Homo sapiens: one gene and its partners. The protein of the gene in region 2 interacts with the protein of the main gene of each other region in a pairwise test. Each region holds a gene or a part of one and is shown on either strand. Other genes may lie near its edges. The genes, in order: CIB4, MYPOP and PRDM14.

What was found.
Region 1: the proteins of MYPOP (region 2) and CIB4 interact in binary tests that used the Homo sapiens proteins (3 or more experiments, as listed by UniProt).
Region 3: the proteins of MYPOP (region 2) and PRDM14 interact in binary tests that used the Homo sapiens proteins (3 or more experiments, as listed by UniProt).

The regions. Positions count from the first base shown.
Region 1 is NC_000002.12:26,624,228-26,627,879, forward strand, and holds part of CIB4 (calcium and integrin-binding family member 4), read right to left. Parts: intron 1-3,652.
Region 2 is NC_000019.10:45,892,602-45,896,253, forward strand, and holds part of MYPOP (myb-related transcription factor, partner of profilin), read right to left. Parts: intron 3,032-3,652; coding exon of another isoform or gene 3,021-3,031; exon of another isoform or gene 1,868-3,020; intron 1-1,867. UniProt on the Homo sapiens protein: Transcriptional repressor; DNA-binding protein that specifically recognizes the core sequence 5'-YAAC[GT]G-3'. Dimerization with PFN1 reduces its DNA-binding capacity.
Region 3 is NC_000008.11:70,057,753-70,061,404, forward strand, and holds part of PRDM14 (PR domain zinc finger protein 14), read right to left. Parts: intron 1,091-3,652; coding exon 888-1,090; intron 1-887. UniProt on the Homo sapiens protein: Transcription factor that has both positive and negative roles on transcription. Required for the maintenance of embryonic stem cell identity and the reacquisition of pluripotency in somatic cells.

The DNA of each region.
Region 1 (3,652 bases), on a different chromosome or scaffold from region 2:
CCTGGGGCCCAGTTCTCAAAGCCTATTCCAGAGACGTGTTCTGGGCAGTGTGAGTCACGCAGCTCCCGTCCTTGCGGCCACAGAGGATGCAGGCACAGCCGGGCCCCCACCTCCCAGCAAGCCTCTCCTTGCTCATTTTGGGAAGCAAGGCTTCTGCTTTGTCCAGAATCGGAAAGACACAGAAGGAATCTTTAGTCCTCGCTCTAGGTCTCCAAAAGCTGGTCTGAGCACTAGGGATGAGCCAGTGACAAAGTTCTTGACAACAGGTGACAAACGGAGAACAATACGGACAAAAGGGGGTGTGTCTGAAAACACTCGAGGCTTCTTACATTTTTGTTTTAAAATTAATATTTCTTTAAAATAAAATGATGGTCACTGACAGTGGATGACATATTTTTTTTAATGTCCTTACTTGGCAAAACTGAAAGTTGGCATCTCTAGTCCTGCCTCAAAAAAAGATTTTGTTTTTGAATAAAAAGTCTGGGACCAGGCTGGGAAGTTTAGTGGGAGGGTGGGGGGCGGGGCAGGCAGGGATGGTTAATGGGTACACACAAAAAAAATAGAAAAAATGAATAAGACCTACTATTGGATAGCACAACAAGGTATTATGGTGTATATATATATATATTTTTTTTATATAGGCATTATAGTCAATAATAATTGTATATTTGGAAATAACTTAGAGGGTAATTGGATTATTTGTAACTCAAAGGATAAATGCTTGAGGGGATGGATGCCCCATTCTCCACGATGTGCTTATTTCGCATTGCATCACAACATCTCATGTACCCCATAAATATATACACCTACTATGTACCCACAAATTTTTTTGTAAGTCTGGGACATACTGTGGTAGATGGCACACCACAAAAGAGAGTAAGACCAAGTCCTAGGGCCAGAACCACAGACTCAGAGAGTGAGGAGGGCACCAGATCATCGGTCCAATCTCTTTTTGAGACCGAAGGATGCTAGAACACCCGTCAGTGACAGAAAGCGCATTCCCTCTGTGCATAGCGCTGGCAGTTAGGGAGTGTTTACTTGTATTGTGGAGAAACCTGCATGTGCTTGTACCTGGACCTATGTCTGGGACCACCTAGAGCGAGGCCTTTCCTAAGGACAGCCTTTTTTTTTTTTTTTTTTTTGAGATGGAGTTTCGCCCTTGTTGCCCAGGCTGGAGTGCAATGGCGCAATCTCAGCTCACCACAACCTCTGCCTTCTGGGTTCAAGCGATTCTCCTGCCTCCGCCTCCCAGATAGCTGGGATTACAGGCATGTGCCACCATGCCCGGCTAATTTTGTATTTTTAGTAGAGACGGGGTTTTTCCATGTTAATCAGGCTGGTCTCGAACTCCCAACCTCAGGTGATCCACCCGCTTCGGCCTCCCAAAGTGCTGGGATTACAGGCGTGAGCCACTGTGCCCACCTGTGGAAAACAGGCTCCACCCCCCCACTGCTTCCCACCCGGACTTGCACAGACAGTTTTGTTTGCTGTGCAGAAGCTCTTTAGTTTAATTAGATCCCATTTGTCAATTTTTGCTTTTGTTGCAATTGCTTTTGGCAATTTCATCATGAAATCTCTGCCCATGCATATGCCCTAAACGGCATTGACTACATTTTCTTCTAGGGTTTTTATGGTTTGGGGTTTTACATTTAAATCTTTAATCTATCTTGAGTTAATTTTTGTATAAGGTATAAGGAAGGCATCTGGTTTCACATTTTCTGCATATGGCTAGCCAGTTCTCCCAGCATCATTTATTGAATAGGGAATTCTTTCCCCATTGCTCATTTTTGTTGTGTGTCAAAGATCAGATGGTTGTAGGTGTGTGGCCTTATTTCTGGGTTCTTTATTCTGTTCCATTGGTCTACATGTCTGTTTGTGTACCTTTACCATGCTGTTTTGGTTACTGTAGCCTTATAGTATAGTTAGCTGAAGTCTATTTGCCCCTTTGCTTCTCCCCACTCCAGTCATTCCTCTTGTGATGTCACTTGCCGAAGATCATGTGGCTAGCAAGTGAATCCAAACCTAGTTCTTTCATGCCTGGCCTGGTGCCCTATCCCTAGTTCTCTAGGTGGGGCAATGGCTCAGGGTCTTCAGTTCAAAAGACGGTTCTGGCTGTTAGAGACCAGATGGAAAAGCAAGAAAGAAACCCAAGTAGAAAAAAAAAGCAACATACAAAAAAAAAAAAAAAAATCAATGGGATCCAAATCAACATGTATATATCTGCATAGAAAAAAAGTCTGGAAGGAAATAAGCCAAAATGATTGTGGCAGTCATCCCTTGAGGTAGACTAATATATCATTTTAATCTTTTTTTTGTTTTTCTGTGTTCTCTAGTTTTTCTACAATGAGCTGGCTCTTATTTGTATAATAGAATAAAATCATGACCATTTAAGATTAAATCAGAAAAGTAAAATTAAAATCATGTGGCCAAGACTCCACTTCCCAGTTGCTCTCCAGTGAGCAAGTTCGGGGGGAAGAGGGGGTCTGAGACTCCAGAAAAGGTGAAGCATCCCAGCCCCGGCCTGTGCACCTAGCCTATCTGCTGGGAAGAGCAGGCCTCACCCCACCTGCCCCATCCCAGGTCTTCTCAAGCCTTGCTGCACCCCACCCCTAACCCCAACAGGCTCCTCACCCATGACATGGAAGAGAGGAACAGGGGAAGCATAAAAGATAGTGCAGAGGACAATGGCTCACCTCCACCGGGTCCCTTACCCAGCACAAGGTGTTCATATTGGTTTATAGATGGGGGGATATACATGCAAGGAGTGTGATAGCTCCAGGCCCAGACTCAGCCCTCCTGATCTTAGTCCAGTGCTTACTCCTTTGGGGGCCAAACAGAGACTCCAGGCCCTACTGAGACAAGGCTATTGCTGGAGAAGGATGTGTTGAGGCCATGGGTCACCAACACCCTCTATGCCACCCCTCCAGTTCGGCTCCCCTTGGGCCCTCTGTGGCACCTGGAAGACCCAGGCACATGGTCACTGCTCAGCCAAGCCTTGATTAGAATAGGAGGCTCTGCCTGGGCCAGAGTTCAAGCTGACTCCCCCAGAGCAGGAACTAGTCCAGACTCTTCCATCATGTGGCCCCTTGGAAGTTGTTTCCCTCTTGGGACCTCAGTTTCCCCATTAATAAAATCAGGGTGAGGAGCATTTGACAGTGACTAGACTGGGTGGTCTCTAAGTTTCTTTCCAGTCGTAGCATTCAGAGAGTCTGGGACTGACCAGTGACCCTGCACCCACCCAGGGGAGGGCAGAAGCTTCCCATCAGCCCTGCCTGTCTGGCTGGCCCTGACCCCGGGTCCCTTAGTGGATGGCCTGGGTTTGAGAGAAGTCCCACCCACATGTGGTGGAGCCCATGCACGTGTACACATGGGGTGTGACTGTATGAGGGTGAGGCCAGGAAGTGGGGGGTGCCAGGAAGACCGCCTCCCCATTTTGTTTCTGTCACAGTCACAGTCTCCGATTCACTCACCTTTCTGAGGTTTCTATTTCTTTCCCCTCCAGAATCCCAGCTTCTCCCAGCTACCCCCACCCACCTACCCACCCCTCACCCTTTCTCATTATTTTGTCTTCTCCACTCCTGCCTCTATTTCAAGACCCAGCTTTGTGCATTTTCCTCTGTCTCTGTCTGCCCTACAGATAGGCCTGTCACTT
Region 2 (3,652 bases):
CCTGCTCCTTCCTCAGCCACCCCCATCTCAGCTGATGCAGCTCCATCCTCCCAGCTGCTCAGGTTAAACACCTTCACTGTTTTGTTTACTAAGACACCATCCACATACAGAAGCTATCGTCTCTGCCTTCAAATTAAATACATACAACTTCTTTCTTCCTGGTCCCCCACCCTGGCCCAACCACCAGTATCTCCCACCAGGACCACTGCAGTCATCGCCTCCCTGAGGGCTCTCTGCTTCCACCCCTGTCCCTGACAGTATCTTTTTCCACCAGCAGCCTGAGGGGTCCAACCAAAATACAAGTCAGTTAGGCTACGGGAAACAAGCTAGTCACAAAGAACCACAGATCACAGGGGCCATTTATATGAAATGTCCAAAATAGGCAAATTTGGCCGCATGTGGTGGCTCATGCCTGTAATCCCAGCACTTTGGGAGGCCGAGGCGGGTGGATCACCTGAGGTCAGGACTTCAAGACCAGCCTGGTCAACATGGTGAAACCCCATCTCTACTAAAAATACAAAAAATTAGCCGGGCATGGTGGCATATGCCTGTAATCCCAGCTACTGGGGAGGCTGAGACAGGAGAATCGCTTGAACCCGGGAGGCGGAGGTTGCAGTGAGCCATGATCGTGCCATTGCACTCCAGCCTGGGCAACAGAGCGAGACTCTGTCTCAAAAATAAAAATAGGCCGGGTGTGGTGGCTCACGCCTGTAATCCCAGCACTTTGGGATCTGAGGTGGGCAAATCACCTGATGTTGGGAGTTTGAGACCAGCCTGACCAACATGGAGAAATCCTGTCTCTACGAAAAATACAAAGTTAGCTGGGCATGGTGGTGCATGCCTGTAATCCCAGCTACTCAGGAGGCTGAGGCAGGAGAATCGCTTGAACCCGGGAGGCAGAAGTTGCAGTGAGCTGAGATTGCATCATTGCACTCCAGCCTGGGCAACAAGAGCGAAACTCCGTCTCAAAAAAAAAAAAAAAAAAAAGGCAAATCTATAGAAACAGAAAGTAGATGAGTGGCTGCCGGGGGCTGGGGGAAGACAGGGAAGATGGGAGATTGGGGATGGCTAAGAGGTGCAGGGTTTCTTTCTGGAGTGATGAAAATGTTCTAAAATTGATCGTGGTGATGGTTGCATAACTCTGAATATACTAAAAGCCATTGAATTGTACGCTGTATTTTATTTTACTTTTTTTTTTTTTTTTTGAGATGGGAGTCTCACTCTGTCGCCCAGGCTGGAGTGCAGTGGCGCGATCTCAGCTCACTGCAAGCTCCGCCTCCTGGGTTCACGCCATTCTCCTGCCTCAGCCTCCTGAGTAGCTGGGACTACAGGCGCCCGCCACCACGCCCGGCTAATTTTTTGTATTTTTAGTAGAGACGGGGTTTCACTGTGTTAGCCAGGATGGTCTCGATCTCCTGACCTCGTGATCTGCCCACCTCAGCCTCCCAAAGTGCTGGGATTACAGGCATGAGCCACCGCGCCTGATCCTGTACACTTTATTTTTAATTTTTATTTATTTTTTATTTTTTGAGACGGAGTCTCGCTCTGTCGCCCAGGCTGGAGTGCAGTGGTGTGATCTCGGCTCACTGCAAGCTCTGTCTCCTGGGTTCACACCATTCTCCTGCCTCAGCCTCCCGAGCAGCTGGGACTACAGGTGCCCTCCACCACGCCCGGCTAATTTTTTTGTATTTTTAGTAGAGACGGGGTTTCACCATGTTAGCCAGGATGGTCTCAATCTCCTGACCTTGTGATCCACCTGCCTTGGCCTCCCAAAGTGCTAGGATTATAGGCGTGAGCCACCGTGCCTGGCCTTAATTTTCATCTTTTTTTGAGACACAGTCTTGCTCTCTCGCTCAGGCTGGAGTGCAAAGGTGAGATCTCGGCTCACTGCATCCTTAATCTCCCCAGCTTAAGCGATCCTCCCATCTCAGCCTCCTGAGCTTCTGGGACCACAGAGGTGCGACCCCACACCAGGATAATTTTATTTTTTTGTAGAGATGAGGTCTCACTATGTTCCTCAGGCTGGTTTCAAACTCCTGGTCTCAAGCAAATCGTACACTTTGAGGTGATTGTATAGTGTGGAAATTATATCGCCATATATATATACATTTTTTTCTTTTTTCTTTTTTTTTTTTGAGATGGAGTCTCATTCAGCTGCCCAGGCTGGAGCTCAGTGGTGCGATCTCGGCTCACTGCAACCTCTGCCTCCAGGGTTCAAGAAATTCTCCACCCTCAGCCTCCTGAGTAGCTGGGACTATAGGTGCACACCACCATGCCCAGCTAATTTTTGTATTTTTAGTAGAGACGGGGTTTCACCATGTTGGCCAGATGGTCTCGATCTCTTGACCTCGTGATCCACCCACCTCAGCCTCCCAAAGTGCTGGGATTACAGGTGTAAGCACTGCGCCCGGCCTTATATTGCAATATAATTGTTTAAAAAAACACAAGTCAGATATTGTTTCTATGCTCAAACCGTCCTGTGGCTCTCACCTCACTCAGGGTAAAAGCAAAGTCCTTGAGGCCTCTAGGGCCCTGCACGATCTTCCCCCATTGCCTTCCTGACCTCAGCTCCCATCCCTCCCTCTTGGGTTACCTGGCTGTAGCCACGGTGGCCTCCTTGCTGATCCTCAAACACATCAGGCCTACTTCTTTTCTTTTTTTTGAGACGGACTCTCATTCTGTCGCCCAGGCTGGAGTGCAGTGGTGCAATCTCGGCTCACTACAACCTCTGCCTCCTGGGCTCAAGCGATTCTCTCACCTCAGCCTCCTGAGTAGCTATAGCTGGGACTACAGGTGTGCACCACCACGCTTGGCTAATTTTTGTTTTGTTTTTGTAGAGACAGGGTTTTGCCATGTTGCTCAGGCTGGCCCCATCTCCTTCTTTTTTTCTCCCCTAACCCTACCTGATTCCTCTCCCAGCACTTATCTCCACCTGGCACGGTATGGCTCTGTGTCTGCTGTCTGTCTCCTCCTCCTGATGTCAGCTCCATCAGGCAGGGCTTTGTATTGCTCCCTTCTGTTTACCCGGCGCCTAGAACAATGTCCAGCACAACATTTTTTCTTTAACGAGAAAAGAACTGGGGCTTCCAGAGACTCAGCGCTGATTGGGTCCCAGGCCCCAGAGTGCCCAGCACCCACAGGAGAAAGTCCAGCCTCTTCCCACGGCTATGGGGCCTCAGCACTTGCCCCCAACTCCGCCTGTCTTCCCACATGTCGTTCCCTGGGCCAGGCTCACACTGCCTCTTGCATCAGCTTGGATGTTTTTTTGGATGTTCCTTCCTCGGGGAAGCTGGCCTCCTGCTCCTTGGCCAAATCAGATCACCCTGCTCTTCTCTCAAAAACAGCCAGCCAAAGAAAGAGAGAAGATAGAGAAAAAAAAAATAACAAAAACAAAAAACCAACCATCCAGGCCGGGTGCGGTGGCTCAGCCGGTAATCCCAGCACTTTGAGAGGCCCAGGCAGGCGGATCACCTGAGGTCAGGAGTTTGAGACCAGCCTGGCCAACATGGTGAAATCCTGTCTCTACTCAAAATACAAAAATTAGCCGGGTGTGGTGGTGCACGCCTGTGATCCCAGCTACTTGGGAGGCTGAGGCACAAGAATCGCTTGAACCCTGGAGGCCGAGGTTGCAGTGACCCAAGATCACACCACT
Region 3 (3,652 bases), on a different chromosome or scaffold from region 2:
CGTCCTGATATTTTTAAATCCTTTTAGAATTACACAAATGCATGATAACTGTAAATGTATTCAAATTTTATAGGAGTATATAATATAGTGATTAAACATGACTTTTCCAGAAGCTTAGGAAGGAAGGGAGAAATTAGGACAATTTTATGATGATTTTATTCTCAGTTTTCAAAACAGGAAAATGGGCTCAAGGTCGTAGCTGCCTGAGGTAGTTCCGACAAGGCCAACAGTCAAGCAAGAATACATCTGTGCCCAAGCCTCGTCCTCCTTTTAATTAAGCCCAAGGGAATATTGTACTTTTTTGCAGCAAGCCTAGCAGAGCATCCAGGTATTTGGAATGGCTCCGTAATGTCATTACTGATTTTCTGTCTTACAAAATCCTCGGCCCACTGTAGAGGCCTTCCGCTCCTTGGAAGGACCGTGCCTTCACTTCCTTCTTACCTATACCTGTCAACACACCTGCACAGATTTGGAACAAGGCGCAGTTCCCCAGGAGCACATGCCAGGCTCTCTCCTGTCTGGAACAGCTCGACTCTTTCCTGCCCAACTAACCCTGCCACCAGTATAAATCAGACACCCCATTTGTCCTTCTATACTTGGCTCAAGGCCACCTCTGTGCATCTTTCATAATCCACGTGTCCAGGTGGCCGTGGACACTCCTTCCTCCATGTTCCTCCCTCTGTGGGTACCTGCATCCTAACACATGTGCATCGCTGTGCCTATTCACGCCTGCCTGTTCCGTAATACTATCCTCTCCTCCTTCAGAGAGGGTGTCCGTCAGGCATCACAGCCCTGCAGCTAGCACCTACAAGGCAACTCCCCGTGTTCAGGAGCTTGGGAAGGGAGAGAGAACGTGATGGTGGGTCATGTGTCCTCCTAATACTCACCTTGTGAGGCCGGTGCTTCTCATGAACATGAAGAATGTGGATCCGAAGCCGGTCCCGCTTCTCAAAGGATCGTTTGCAGAGAGAACAGGGAAATTTCCTATCGCCCTTGTCCACACAGGGGGTGTACTTGAGGTGCTTATCTCTGTAATATTTGTAGGTAAATACCTTCCCACATCTTTCACATCTGTAGCCTTCTGCAGACTCTGTCAAACACAGCAAACACAATGTCTCTTCAGTTACTTCCCTCCCTAGTTCCTTCAAGAGGATATTTATTTATTTATTTATTTTTAGCCAAGAATTCTTTGGCTACTTCAAGAGGAATTTTCTTTTTTTGAGACAGAATCTTGCTGTATTGCCCAGTCTGTAGTGCAGTGGCACGATCTTGGCTCACTGCAACCTCTGCCTCCCAGGTTCAAGCGATTCTCCTGCCTCAGCCTCCCAAGTAGCTGGGATTACAGGTGCCCACTACCACGCCTGGCTAATTTTTGTATTTTTAGTAGAAACAGGGTTTCATCATGTTGGCCAGGCTGGTCTAGAACTCCTGACCTCAGGTGATCAGCCCCTCTTGGCCTCCCAAAGTGCTAGGATTACATGCGTGAGCCACTGTGCCTGGTCAAGAGAATTTTCTTTTCTTTTCTTTTTTTTTTTTTGAGATGGAGTCTTGCTCTGTCACCCAGGCTGGAGTGCAGGGGTGTGATCTCGGCTCACTGCAACCTCCACCTCCCGGGTTCAAGTGATTCTCCTGCCTCAGCCTCCCAAGTAGCTGGGACTACAGGCACACACCACCACGCCCAGCTAATTTTTGTATTTTTAGTAGAGGTGGGGTTTCACCATCTTGGCCAGGACAGTCTTGATCTCTTGATCTTGTGATCCACCTGCCTCGGCCTCCCAAAGTGCTGGGATTACAGGCATGAGCCACCATGCCCGGCCGCCAAGAGAATTTTTAAAAACCTTTTTATTACAGAAAAATGTAAACATACCAAAGTGAAAATAATAGTGTAATAAACCCTCATGTGCCAAACACCAAGCTTTGACCAACTCGTAACTAATTTTGTTTTCATTTATATCACCGCTCGCCATAGTAGATTATTTTAATACTAATTCATCCTTTGACTCAAAAACATCTAACCGTAATCTTTAGAAGATGACATATTTTTAAAAAGCATAATTGTGACCAGGCAAAGTGGCTCACGCCTATAATCCCAGCACTTTGGGAAGCTGAGGCAGGTGGATCACCTGAGGTCAGGGGTTCAAAACCAGCCTGGCCAACATGGTGAAATCCCGTCTGTACTAAAAATACAAAATTAGCCAGGCGTGGTGGTGCCTGCCTGTAATCCCAGCTACTTGGGAGGCTGAGGCAGGAGAATCACTTGAACCTGGGAGGCGCAGGTTGCAGTGAGCCAAGATTGCACCACTGCACTCCAGCCTGGGCAACAACAGCAAAACTCCATCTCAAAAAAAAAAAAAAAAGCATAATTGTGCCAGGTGCAGTGGCTCACGCCTATAATCCCAACACTCTGGGAAGCTGAAGTGGACAGATCGCTTGAGCCCAGGAGTTTGAGACCAGCCTGGGCAACATAGTAAGACCCCATCTCTACAAAAAAATAATAAAAATTATCTGGGCATGATAGCACACGCCTTTAGTCCCAGAGGCCGAGATGGGAGGATCACCTGAGCCTGGGGAAGTTAGTTGAGGCTGCAATGAGCAGTGATTGAGCCACTGCACTCCAGCCTGGGCAACAGAGCAACACTTTGTCTCGAAAAAAAAAAAAAAACATAACCATAATGTCATTGTCACATTGTCATACCTAAACGATTAACTCTTATTCTTTTATAGAAACATATATGTACTTATATATGCACATTTATATACACACATATATATTTGTTTAATTACTTTCTGGTCAGTCCATTCAAATTAGGCTTCAAACAAAGTCTACATGTTGTATATGGTTGCTATGTCTCTTAAATATCTTAACCTATAGGCTCTCTTTCCCTTTTGTTCCTTGATATGTACTGTTGAAGAGACCATTCCACCAGCCCCATTTAAGGGCAGTGCAACCCTGCAGCTCTTGAACACATTCCTGCCTGGCACTTGTTACAAGGTTAATACACTGAGGCACTGAGGCCGACCTATTTCTCTTTGTGCCTTTAAGATCAGCCTGAGTTACAAGCTCAGAGCAGTCACCAGGACACCCGCAGCTCACAGTGCTGTTCTATTCTACACAATTCAAGGGACCTTCTTAGTTTATACTTCATTACTCAAAACTTGTGGCAGATTCCAGAGCTAGAATCTTTATGTATAGAGTAAGGTTGAAAGCATCTTGACTTCCCTAATGCACAGGGTTACCGTGATGACTAATTTAATTCTAACACTTACCGAGTCTTACCAATGTGAGTGATACTATCACTGAATGGCAGACAAGACTGAGAGGTAAATCTGTTTTTATCAATGGAGGAGGGAGGAGGAGAGAAGTTAGAGAGGGTGCAGCTAGACTCTAGCAAAGCAGGTCCCACGTCCAGGGGTGTCTATGTGTTGGGGGAAGGCGAGAGAACAGGGGCCACCTACAAAAGCATCCCTGCAGAGGACACTCTGGATCCCAGAGGATAAAGTGGCTTTGACTATGAATGCACCACAGAGATCTCATTGTTTGACCCCAGGGAGGAAGAGCAGCCAAGAGTGAGTCTATGCAAGAGTCTGCAGATAGAAATCTTCTCAGCATCAGGACAGCAGGGAAGCTGTCCATCAGGGGCTTTGTTAGTTG